Linked DNA regions of Homo sapiens. The protein of the gene in region 1 purifies or fractionates together with the protein of each later gene. This does not show direct contact. Each region holds a gene or a part of one and is shown in the gene's direction. Other genes may lie near its edges.

Region 1 (3,651 bases):
GGCTGCAGTGGGATGGAGCAGCAGGTATCAGCCCAGGCTGCGTGTTAGAACCACCTGGGAGCTCTAAAAAGCGCTGGCTGCTGACGCCCCCAGAGGCACTAAGTTTACAGGGAAGTCTCAGGGCAGCAGGAGCTTGCAGGCCTCCAGAAGGAACACCCGTGGGCATCTGGGCATGGCTAGGAGTGTTTCTGGTAAGTTCAAGGCATTGAGCCTGCACACAAGTCTCTTGGCCTCTTGCCGAGTGCACGTTCTGATTTGGCAGGAAGGTGGGCCTGAGCCCTGCTGGTGGGGGCTGTGCTGGTCTGAGGTCCGCGCTGTAAGGGACTGGTGGGATGCCACATTGGAAGGAGGCCGCCCAGCTCAGTGTCTCTTACTGGGGCATGTGATGATTTTTCCCCACGTCTCTGTGGAAAAGATGAAAGTAGCTGCATTCGTTGCCCATTCTCCAGTCCCACTGGTAACTGTGTACCTGTCTCCAAGGAGACCTGCATCCAAAGATCTATGCCATATTGTGGCAACATGTGGCATACCACAGAGATCAAGAATTCCTGCGGAAAAGCCCTGAGCTCAGAGGAGAGGGGCCAGCCAGGAGCTGGCCTCCCTTTGCAGGAGAAAGGCATGAGGAGCCTGCACCCTAGCTGTTATTTTTGTCTCAGGCTCAGATATGGAGGGGGCTAAACGCCGCCCTCTGGAAGCAGCTGTCTGGTTGTGGACCAGCCTTGTGTGCCCTCCACTGCAGCAGTCAGGGAGGTTAGGGTAGGAGCGTCAGCGTTCACGGACAGCCTTGGGCTTTTACAGTGATCAGAGAGACCCCTGCCCTCAGCAGGGCCAGCACTCCTGGGCAGGGAGAGAGAAGAAACCTCACAAACCAGGGCCTGAAGCGAATGTGGCCAGCGAAGTCCTCCTGGACCGACCCCCTTGTGGCTCCCCGCGACGGGTGCTGGTCGGCGGGGTGCAGGCCACGTGTCTGCACACGTTAGGTGCTCAGGTGCTGACGTGCTGGGCCTTGGTTAGACGCAGGTCTGGGCCCAGGTCTGGGTTAGGTACCTTGGAGGGAGGGGAATGAAGGGCAGGGTCTGTAGGTGACTGGGTAGCTTTGGAAAGGTTTCTTAGGGCTCGTGGGCCGTGCATTCGGGCAGCTGGGGCTACTGGGGCCTCAGAGCACCTGCACTGCCATGGATTGAGGGGCGTCTGCCCCCTCCATTACCCAGAAGCTTCGTTGGTGGAAAGCGGGTGGCAGAGGGCAGGGCAGTGTGTCATCAGCTTACCCGCCCAGTGTGTCTCCTTCACAGGGTCACAGTAAATCGATCCAGTGTCTGACGGTGCATAAAAACGGCGGCAAGTCCTACATTTACTCTGGGAGCCACGACGGACACATTAATATCCTTTGACTCAAAGAGCTGGCTCCGGAGCCGCTGGCTCTAGGGGGGAATTTCCTGTTCCCATGATGCCAGAGGCCAGGCCAGCCAGGTGGCTCCAGCTGCAGCCACAGCCACACGCTCTTCTGACCCGTGTGGCTTCTAGGGGTGGCCTGTCTGTACATGGGGACAGGCAACTGTCCCCTGGAGTTGTCCTTGGCAACTCCAGGGCTTATGCTGAGGAAAAGCCATGGGCGGCTCCGACCTGATCAGTCCCTTCTTGTCGTGCAACCCTGAGAGTGTGGCTTAACGGCCCTGAGCTTGGGCTGCCACTACCTCTGCCAATGGCACCTGGCGCCAGCCTTGGCCCTACTCCACATGGTGGGTTTCTTGATTCCTAGAATTCACAAGCACCTGGACACCCTTACGTTGGGTCCCCTTGTTTTAAAAATAGGAAAACCAGAGCCCAGAGAGCTGATGTGCCCGCCCCAGAGTCATGCAGCCTGTGGTCCACAGAGCCAGGGCTGGAGCTCCTGCGAGGTGCCTTGTGGCCCTTCGGTGATGTTCCCTGGAGGTGTTTGTGTCCCCCTTATAAGTCCTTGTCTGGGTTTCTTTAAATGAGTCCTGGTTTCTCCCTGATGATGGGGGCTTCTGTTGTGTTTTTCCTGCATGGCCTGGGGCTGGTGACACCCTGCTCACGGGTGTGTCTTGAACCTTGGAGCCACCATCTGCAGAGTGCCTGGGCAGGGATGCCCACACACGTTGCTGATGATGGCACCTGCTGTGCGTTGTTCTGCTGCCCTCCCTGAGCACCGTGCTGTGTTGGAGACTGCCTTTTGTGTGGACAGCTCTGGTCCGCATGTGCTGTACCTCCCAAAGGGACTGTCCGGGACCCAAGGAGGTCCCCCCAGGCTGGGAGAGGAGGGCAGACATGCCACCCTCTGCCCCCAAAACATAAAGAAATGTGGGGTTAGAGGGTTGCGCCTACCCGATAACTAGTAGCAGAGGAGACGCCGGAGCCTCCCCAGCTTGCTGGTCCCCAGTAGGCCTTCAGCACGGCTCCCTTTCTGCCTCATCCCAATCCCTGTGTGGTGCACCCACACTTCAGATACCCCTTCCTAAGAACGTGTCAACAGTGGACACTGCAGGCTTCCCAGGGGGAATGGTTATGTCCGTTTGCGGCGAGATTCTCATTCTTGATGTAAATGGAGAATCTTAGGACTGAAGCCACACCTGAGAACACCCAGCAGTCCTGGGAGCCGGGCTTTTCCTTAACCCCACCCTACATTACTGGGATTCAGAGACGGGGGAGAACGACTCCTTCGCTGGGAAAGGCCACACGAACCAGGTGTCCAGGATGACCGTGGATGAGTCGGGGCAGCTCATCAGCTGCAGCATGGACGACACCGTGCGGTACACCAGCCTCATGCTGCGGGACTACAGGTGAGAGCACTCGGGTCTGCGGGGGTTCCGGATGAGCCTCAGCTCCCCTCGGAGGGCTTGTGCCCTCCAGCAGTTACTGTTCTGGAGGACGCCTCACTTGCTCCTTTCATCTCTCCCACCCCGTCCCCAGCATTGTTCTCCTGTTGTTGGGCCCTGAGCCCAGCACTGTGTTACAGATCCAGGTGGTCTGGGTAATGCTCTTGCCCACAGACAACGACCAGGTGTGGACTCTGCCCTGGAAGCAGGGGCAGCAGATCACAGCCCTGTTCTCCAGGAACCTGCTGCGGTCTCTCCCTGTGTCCCTTTCCTCATCAGTAAAGGCGGGTACAGTGGAGCCTGCCTCAGGCTGTTGTGGATTAGGTGAGCCTGGCACAGGGCAGGTGCTGAGTACAAGACAGCATTCCCCTTCTGCTCAAGGGTGAGATGGGCACACAGTGATCTGGTTAAAAGACAATGTCTTGTTTGTTTTTGGTCTTGGGCCTTTGATTGGCAGTCAGTGGAGCTAGGAGAGTAGCAGTTTGCAAGTGATCTGAAGTCCTAAATGCAGTTGGAGGGACTTGAAAGAGAAATGTTCCAGGACCTGACGAGGCCACTGCACATCCAGTGTCCCCATGCCCAGGTCTGACCCCTCCTCTGGCCCTACATTTCTTGTGTAGACCCCTTTGTCACCCGGTAGTCCTGCCTAAGTCGTGTTGCCTGGGAGATGGGGACTCCTGGGGCCTGTTGATGGGAGCCTGGCACAGGGTGCAGCACGCAACTCCTAGCAGGTGTGCCGTCCTTGTAGGTAACACAGGCCCTGCCTGCCTGGCAGACTGGGCATCTGTAGGTAAATTGGGCCTCCCGATGAGTG
Region 2 (3,751 bases), on another chromosome or scaffold:
GTATTTTTTGAAGGGTATACTGTTTAACTTCCCATTGCAACAGGGGATAACTTATATGATTATTTCAGCGATGATTTTTTGAATATTTTTCCATTAAAAGTACAACTGTGTGAAACAAGGCAAAGACATTTCTCACACACAAAGCAGATGTCATTAGCCACTCTGATACACTATGCTGCTGATTCATAAAATAGGTAAGAGCAGATCGTTTTCTTCATCAGAAATATCTGGAAAAAAAAAAGCCACCAAGCACTGTATGTGTCAATTTCTCACCTTTTTTTAAAAAAAAAAAGAGTGGGCTGCTACAGTGGATATGTTCTACATCTCTTTGGGGCAGTGATTACATACAATTGTCATAACTCGATGGAACTGTCTACAGGATCTGTGTATTTTCTTTTAAGTAATTTATAACTCAACTTTTTTTATGGGAAGCTGTAGTTAACACTGGATAGTTAATACTTGGCTGATAAGAAACCGACTTGTTACAGAGAAAATGAGTCCCTTCCATCTTGGGCACAAAACGGCTCCACAAGACCAGCCTAGCTCTCTGGGCAGGCAGGTAACACTGGCAGGCAGAGGCATGCTCCTTGAATCTCACTGAGGGGGACAAGTGTTAGTGCGAGGCAGGTAGGAGCAAGGCCGCACACGCAGACTCTGTCATCTGGGCAGCTGCCCAATCCCCGTTTTTCATTTGTAACAAAAATAGTGTCCACCTCTTAATAATGTTCTGAGGATTAAGGGCGTTAAGTCGGATGTTTGTTGAAAGCACTTAGGCATAGTAGGAAGTACTAAGTAAATATGTCTTACCACTATTTATTATAAAAGATGAACAGGCTGGCCCGGCGTGGTAGCTCACGCCTGTAATCCCAGCACTTTGGGAGGCCGAGGCGGGCGGATCACGAGGTCAGGAGATCAAGACCTTCCTGGCTAACACAATGAAACCCGGTCTCTACTAAAAATACAAAAAATTAGCCGGGCGTGGTGGCGGACGCCTATAGTCCCAGCTACTCGGGAGGCCGAGGCAGGAGGATGGCGTGAACCCGGGAGGCGGGGCTTGCAGTGAGCCGAGATCGCGCCACTGCACTCCAGCCTGGGCGACAGACCGAGACTTCGTCTCAAAAAAAAAAAAAAAAAAAATGAACAGGCTACTACTACTACTACTACACACACACACACACACACACACACACACACAGAGCCACTGCCTAAAAATCTGGCAATCCTTCCTGACATTTATTACTGAATAACGAACGGTTACCAAACCTGTCTCCCAAATCACAAGACTCTTCCAGATTAAAATGTCTCTCGCCCACTTGGATCCACTCGCCTGTCTAGGACACAAACCCGTGAGGCACCAGCCCCCGTGACAGAGGCAGATTCCAGCTTCGCCTCACGCCACCTCACGCCTCGCGCCAGCCTTCCCACCACTGCCCGCGCAGCCCGCGCGGCGTCACGTGACCTCTAGTTCCGCACCGCCCCCCCCACCCCCCGGCCTAGCTGCCGGATCCCCGCCCCGGCTCGTCCGCGGTGTCACATGACACCTGGACCAGCCGCTGGCCAATCCCCTCCCTCCCGGGTTGCGAGGCATCACGTGGACGCTACTCGCTATCCCCGGCCTGTTGGCTTCTTCCGCGCTGGAGTATCCAGATAGGCGACACGCCGGCGGGCGGCTGAGGCGGGAATGGCTGCTGTACTGCAGCGCGTCGAGCGGCTGTCCAATCGAGTCGTGCGTGTGTTGGGCTGTAACCCGGGTCCCATGACCCTCCAAGGCACCAACACCTACCTAGTGGGGACCGGCCCCAGGTAAACGTCCCTCTCCAACCTCCCCAACGTTCGCAGCCGGCCCCGGAGCCCGGGCTTTGACTGATCGCGGCTGCGCGGGCAGTGGAGAGCGCCGCGTCCTGTCCCTAGCTGGGCAGCCCCGCGCCTAGCAGCCCCGTCGGGACTGCACGCAGACACTCGGATCTCGAAGCTAGCTAAAATACGACCACCCCAGGTGATAGCTCTCTAATTTAGGGAGAAATGGAAAAAAAAAAAAAAAAAAAAAAAAAAACTTCTGTTTTGAAACCCGATTTACTGTTCTTGATGTTTGAATGCCAGGGTGTGCGTGTTTAAACTGTTGAGAAAATTCGGATGTCAAGAGTCCAAGAAAGCGTTTACTTTGCTCACTTGACTTTCACTGGTGTTTTGCCCAGAGTGTAACTTCCCTTCTCAAAAGCGATTAATTATGTTGAGGCGATTTCCTCAACTCAGCAGCAGAGGGCAGGATTCTCCTGGCTTCCAAATTGGTTCTCTGCAGCCTGTGGGCTCATAAGAGGAGCTGACATAAGTAATTTGGGGAAGTTTTTTGTTACAATTGTGTGTGACCTTGTTTGAGTTTAATTTGCAGACACAGTAACACACCTGTATTTCTAAGAAGATACTTTTGCTCTTGTTTAGCTGCATTCTGTTTTAGTGGAATTATGCAGGAATGGGAGATTTGGTTTACTGCATAGTAAGTCTTAGGCATTTAGCAACTTTTGTAGTCTTTACTGGATGAACCCAGATAATGTAGTTTCTCTTGAGCATAGAATTTAATTGTGCAGTCAAGACATAAATTATTTTTAAAATATAATTGATTACTAAAAACGATTTAGTAAGTACAGTTAATTGAGTTTTCCTTGGAAGTGTCTACTGTTTGGCGTTTTTCCAGTAAATAAGAATTTTAGAAGCAGCAGACCTGCAAAGTGGGCAGGTAAAAGATTAAGTTCAGAGTAAATAAGGCAGGGTCAGGTAGTTACCAAAGGTTTAGGCTGCCACCAGAATCTAGGAGGATAGAGAATTAAGCAGGAAAAATGCCAGATCTCTAGGGTACAGTCTGTCTTGGCTGGAAGTCCCTCAACCAAGTAAATCCATAGGCGGTCTCTCTACAGTGTGTCATCTTGAACTAGTCAATACCTCAGACAAAAGATGCATATTATCAGAATTACCCTGGAAAGTCTCTTAGAAGAACACCATGTTGGAGATCAGTGTATTGTCTCAGTAAGTTCAGCACAACCTGCCTTTTTTCCAGCGTTGAAACAGATGGCTGATTCTGTTTGAAAACCAGGTGAAGAAATTGGCTTGTGTTGAGGGGCTATATTGTATGAAAAATACATACTGTATCTTTAAACACTATAATCACACTCAACATAGCAAAGTGCTAGTGCTAAGAGAGACTTAAAGACTAACTGAGGGAAAAGCAGATTTATAGTCTCTCGTCTTAAATTACTTAACACTGTTGCTCACATAAATTAATGGAGTGGAATGGCCAGTGGAATTACTTGCACTATGTAAATTATTTCTCCATATAGTTGAACTAGAGAGTCCGTATAGTTGAGCTAGAAATAAGTGTAGATAATGCTACTGTATAAAGTAAAAGGTGTAAAGTAAAAGGTGGCTAGAAGTTAATATTAATTGGCCCCTTGTCAGATGTTCTGAGATTGGTATCCACCTGTTCCGCTTCACAAAACAGTTCTAAGATCACAAGCGGCTTTTGTATCACTAACCCCAATGGTATTTTTCTGTTCTCATCTTCCTTGAACTTCAGTGCTTTGACACCATTGACGACTCCCTCCTTAATTTGCCAACACCACATTCTTCAGGTTTCCTATTACCTCTTGAGCTGCTCTTTCTCTTTCACCTTGATAGAGTCATCTTCTTTATCAAATCTTTAATTATTTTAGTTATTCAGTATATAATCCTCATCTCTCATGTTCTTCTACTGTATTCT
Region 3 (3,651 bases), on another chromosome or scaffold:
AGTGCTCAGTAAGGATCACTGTAAATAACAGAGTAGTTAGCACACCAAATCTGACACACACTGAGCATTTTCACCCCAGTGCACTGCCTTTGCCCCTCTCTGTAATGTACAGCTATGTTTAGTTCTGCATCCCCTTGAATGTCAACTTTGCTTATGTTTCACATTTCAGATAGTATTCTTTCACAGATGCTCACACCTATAAATACAAACAGAACATTGGTGCATAATAGTGCCGATAATTGGTAACATTACCTTGTTGTTGGCTTAAATGGGATTTCTACTAAACGATTCACTGTTTTTAAGCTGACTTATGGGTTAAATGAATTTTTTTCAGTCATTTTCAGGAAGTATCCACTGTTTCCTGTTTTACTAAGCATTTATCTCAGGAATAGCCAAGCTTTTCTTACCTGTTGTGATGATCATTTGGGTTTTCTCTATCTAGCAGCATGATTGGTTTTATATCTCTTATAATCCATTCATGGGATGACTCTCAATCAAGGGGGTAATTTTAATGTACTGCTGGATTAATATTGTTCATTAATGTTTACTTGGGAAGTTAGTATCAAGGTACGATCTAGGTCTCTCATTCTACTTTTTTCCCTTTTGTTGTCTTTTAGCAGCAATGTTATGTTAGGTTCTTGAAAAGATTTAGGAAGCTTTTCTTCTCTAAGAAGAGTTTTAAAACTTTTTTATTGGCCAGGCGTGGTGGCTCATGCCTGTAATCCCAGTACTTTGGGAAGCCGAGGCAGGCGGATCACGAGGTCAGGAGTTGGAGAGCAGCCTGACCAACATGGTGAAACCCCATCTGTACTAAAAACACAAAAATTAGCTGGGTGTGGTGGTACGTGCCTGTAGTCCCAGCTCCTCAGGAGTCTGAGGCAGGAGAATCACTTGAACCCAGGAGGCGGAGGTTGCAGTAAGCCAAGATCGTGCCACTGCACTCCAGCCTGGGCAACAGAGCGAGACTCTGTCTCAAAAAACAAACAAAAAAAAAACACAAAAAAAACCTTTTTATTATGGAACATTTCAAATCTATATGAAAGTAGAGAAAACAGTATAAAGAATGAATCCCTGTGTATCCATCACCTAGCTTCAACAATTATCTGTATAGGGTCAATCCTGTGTATTTCCATCTACCCACTCCCTGCCTCCCTGCCTCCCTGCCCTCCACGAAAGCTGGATTATTATTTAATAGTAAATCCCAGACATCTAAATAGGTGTTTGAAATTGTAAAATTTTATGACTAATACATGAATACATTCATCTTATTTTTAAAAAAACGACTTATAGATTAGGCCAAAGTCCCTTTCAACCACTATTCCTACATCCTTGGACCCCTCCCCAGAGGTTGCCACTGTTAGAAGATTGGCGTGTGTCCCTCCTTGTATTTACTTATTTATTTATTTGAGACAGAGTCTCACTGTGTTGCCCAGGCTGGAGGGCAGTGGTGCGATCTTGGCTCACTGCAACCTCTGCCTCCCAGGTTCAAATGATTCTCACGTCTCAGCCTCCCGAGTAGCTGAGATTACAGGTGTGTGCCACCATGCCCAGCTAATTTTCTTGTATTTTTAGGAGAGACAGGGTTTCACCATGTTGGCCAGGCTGGTCTCAAACTCCTGGGCTCAAGTGATCCACCCACCTTGGCCTCCCAAAGTGCTGGGATTACAGGCGTGAGCCACTGCGCCCGGCTAGATAGACTTTTTCATGTGATCTTTTTCTTCCTTTCTCTTCAATCCTTTAGACAAATTGGGCAACATGGGGTTTATGACATTTTTCTGCTGAGAGACTTATGCTGAAACCTAATTAGAATTTTGAAGAGGCAAAATCAAAGATCTATAGGCAGAGAACTACATCATTAGAATGTAGTGACTCCATCTAGAATGGAAAACCTGGATTTGTGCTGAGCTGTGCCACTCACAACTGTGTATCCTTTGGGAAAAACATGTCTCTGAATCAGTTCCTCATGTTTCAGGGGATATAGACTTGACTTTAGAGGGCATGTGGGCATTGAGTATACATGAAAGCATTTTGTAAATGATAAAATATAGGAATAGAAAACCAAACACCTCATGTTCTCACTTAAAAGTGGGAGCTGAACAATGAGAACACGTGGACACAGGGAGGGGAACATCACACACGGGGGCCTATCGGTGGGTGGGAGGCAAGGGGAGGGAGAGCATTAGGACAAATACCTAATGCATGCGGGGCTTAAAACCTAGATGACGGGTTGATGGGTGCCACAAACCACCATGGCACATGTATAGCTATGTAACAAACCTGCACATTCTGCACACATATCCCAGAACTTAAAGTAAAATAAATAAATAAATAAATAAATAAAATATGGCTTTTATTATTGCCTATGTTAGGTCACTTTAGGATGAGAGGAAGCCAGCCAGGCGCAGTGGCTCACACCTGTAATCCCAGCAGTTTGAGAGGCCAAGGCAGGCAGATCACAAGGTCAGGAGTTCGAGACCAACCTGGCCAAAATGGTGAAACCCCGTCTCTACTAAATATACAAAAAATTAGCCGGGCATGGTGGCAGGCGCCTGTAGTCCCAGCTACTCGGGAGGCTGAGGCAGGAGAATCACTTGAACCTGGGAGGCGGAAGTTGCAGTTAGCTGAGACCATGCCACTGCACTCCAACCTAGGTGACAGAATGAGACTGTCTCAAAAAGAAAAAAAAAAAAAATGAGAGGAAGCCAAGGAGAAGAAAGTAGTACTCATGCATCACCTCTGTTTTGTTAGAACATACTTCTAAGGATTAATAAGCCTGAATTCTAGAGATGAGGAGTAGCACAGATTGATGTCAATGACAAGTTAGGAACACTGTTTTAGAGGCTTATGCTAGAGGGTAAGTTTGATCTTAGGATGGGTGCTGAAGAGATGGGTTTGCCTTCCAAGGCATGTGCGTGCATGCACACACACACACACACACACACTAATGTGGCCTCGGTGTGTCCTCTACCTCTGTGTTCAGAAGGGAAGCTTCTTCTAGTGTCAGACCTCCTGGGTTGAAGACTGGCACTCCTGCTCAGTAGCTGGTAACTTTGAGCAAGGTTCTTCACCTCTCTCAGCCTCAGTTTCCTCAGTTGTAAACATGGGCAAATCATAGTACCTTTTTCATGTAGTAGTTGTAAGGTTTTGATGAGATAATACAATTAAAAGCCTTAGCACAGAGCAGGCATAGAGTAAGTGCTCATTATTACCTTATTTTTGTAAATATTATCTGACCTCACCATTATCAGCCTGTGACCCTGTTTCTTCTCTTTCAGGTAGGAGGTGTGCAATCTTTGGGGGGAACAGGTGCACTTCGAATTGGAGCTGATTTCTTAGCGCGTTGGTACAATGGAACAAACAACAAGAACACACCTGTCTATGTGTCCTCACCAACCTGGGGTGAGTCTTTCAGCTGAAGTGAGAGGAAAAACAGAAACCAGAGAGAATTATCCTCATGACTCTCCCTGGTTACACAGAAAATGTAATCCAGCCCTAGAACAACTGACTGTTGGGAATGGCTTGAACAGTGGGTTATGGCAGTGCATGAGAAACCTGCTGCTCAAAATCAAGTTAAGAATACTCTTTCTCAAGACTCTTAGTAGACTTGTATCTACCAAGGCTATGTTGAAACTCCCCAGAGGAGGCATAGAA

What was found.
Region 2: the proteins of WDR1 (region 1) and LACTB2 fractionate together in Homo sapiens (co-fractionation; one large-scale study listed by BioGRID). This does not show direct contact.
Region 3: the proteins of WDR1 (region 1) and GOT1 fractionate together in Homo sapiens (co-fractionation; one large-scale study listed by BioGRID). This does not show direct contact.

What each region holds. Positions count from the first base shown.
Region 1 is NC_000004.12:10,082,172-10,085,822, reverse strand, and holds part of WDR1 (WD repeat-containing protein 1), read left to right. Parts: intron 1-1,292; coding exon 1,293-1,380; intron 1,381-2,644; coding exon 2,645-2,801; intron 2,802-3,651.
Region 2 is NC_000008.11:70,667,051-70,670,801, reverse strand, and holds the start of LACTB2 (endoribonuclease LACTB2), read left to right. Parts: upstream 1-1,616; 5' UTR 1,617-1,681; coding exon 1,682-1,803; intron 1,804-3,751.
Region 3 is NC_000010.11:99,406,474-99,410,124, reverse strand, and holds part of GOT1 (aspartate aminotransferase, cytoplasmic), read left to right. Parts: intron 1-3,275; coding exon 3,276-3,399; intron 3,400-3,651. UniProt on the Homo sapiens protein: Biosynthesis of L-glutamate from L-aspartate or L-cysteine. Important regulator of levels of glutamate, the major excitatory neurotransmitter of the vertebrate central nervous system. Acts as a scavenger of glutamate in brain neuroprotection.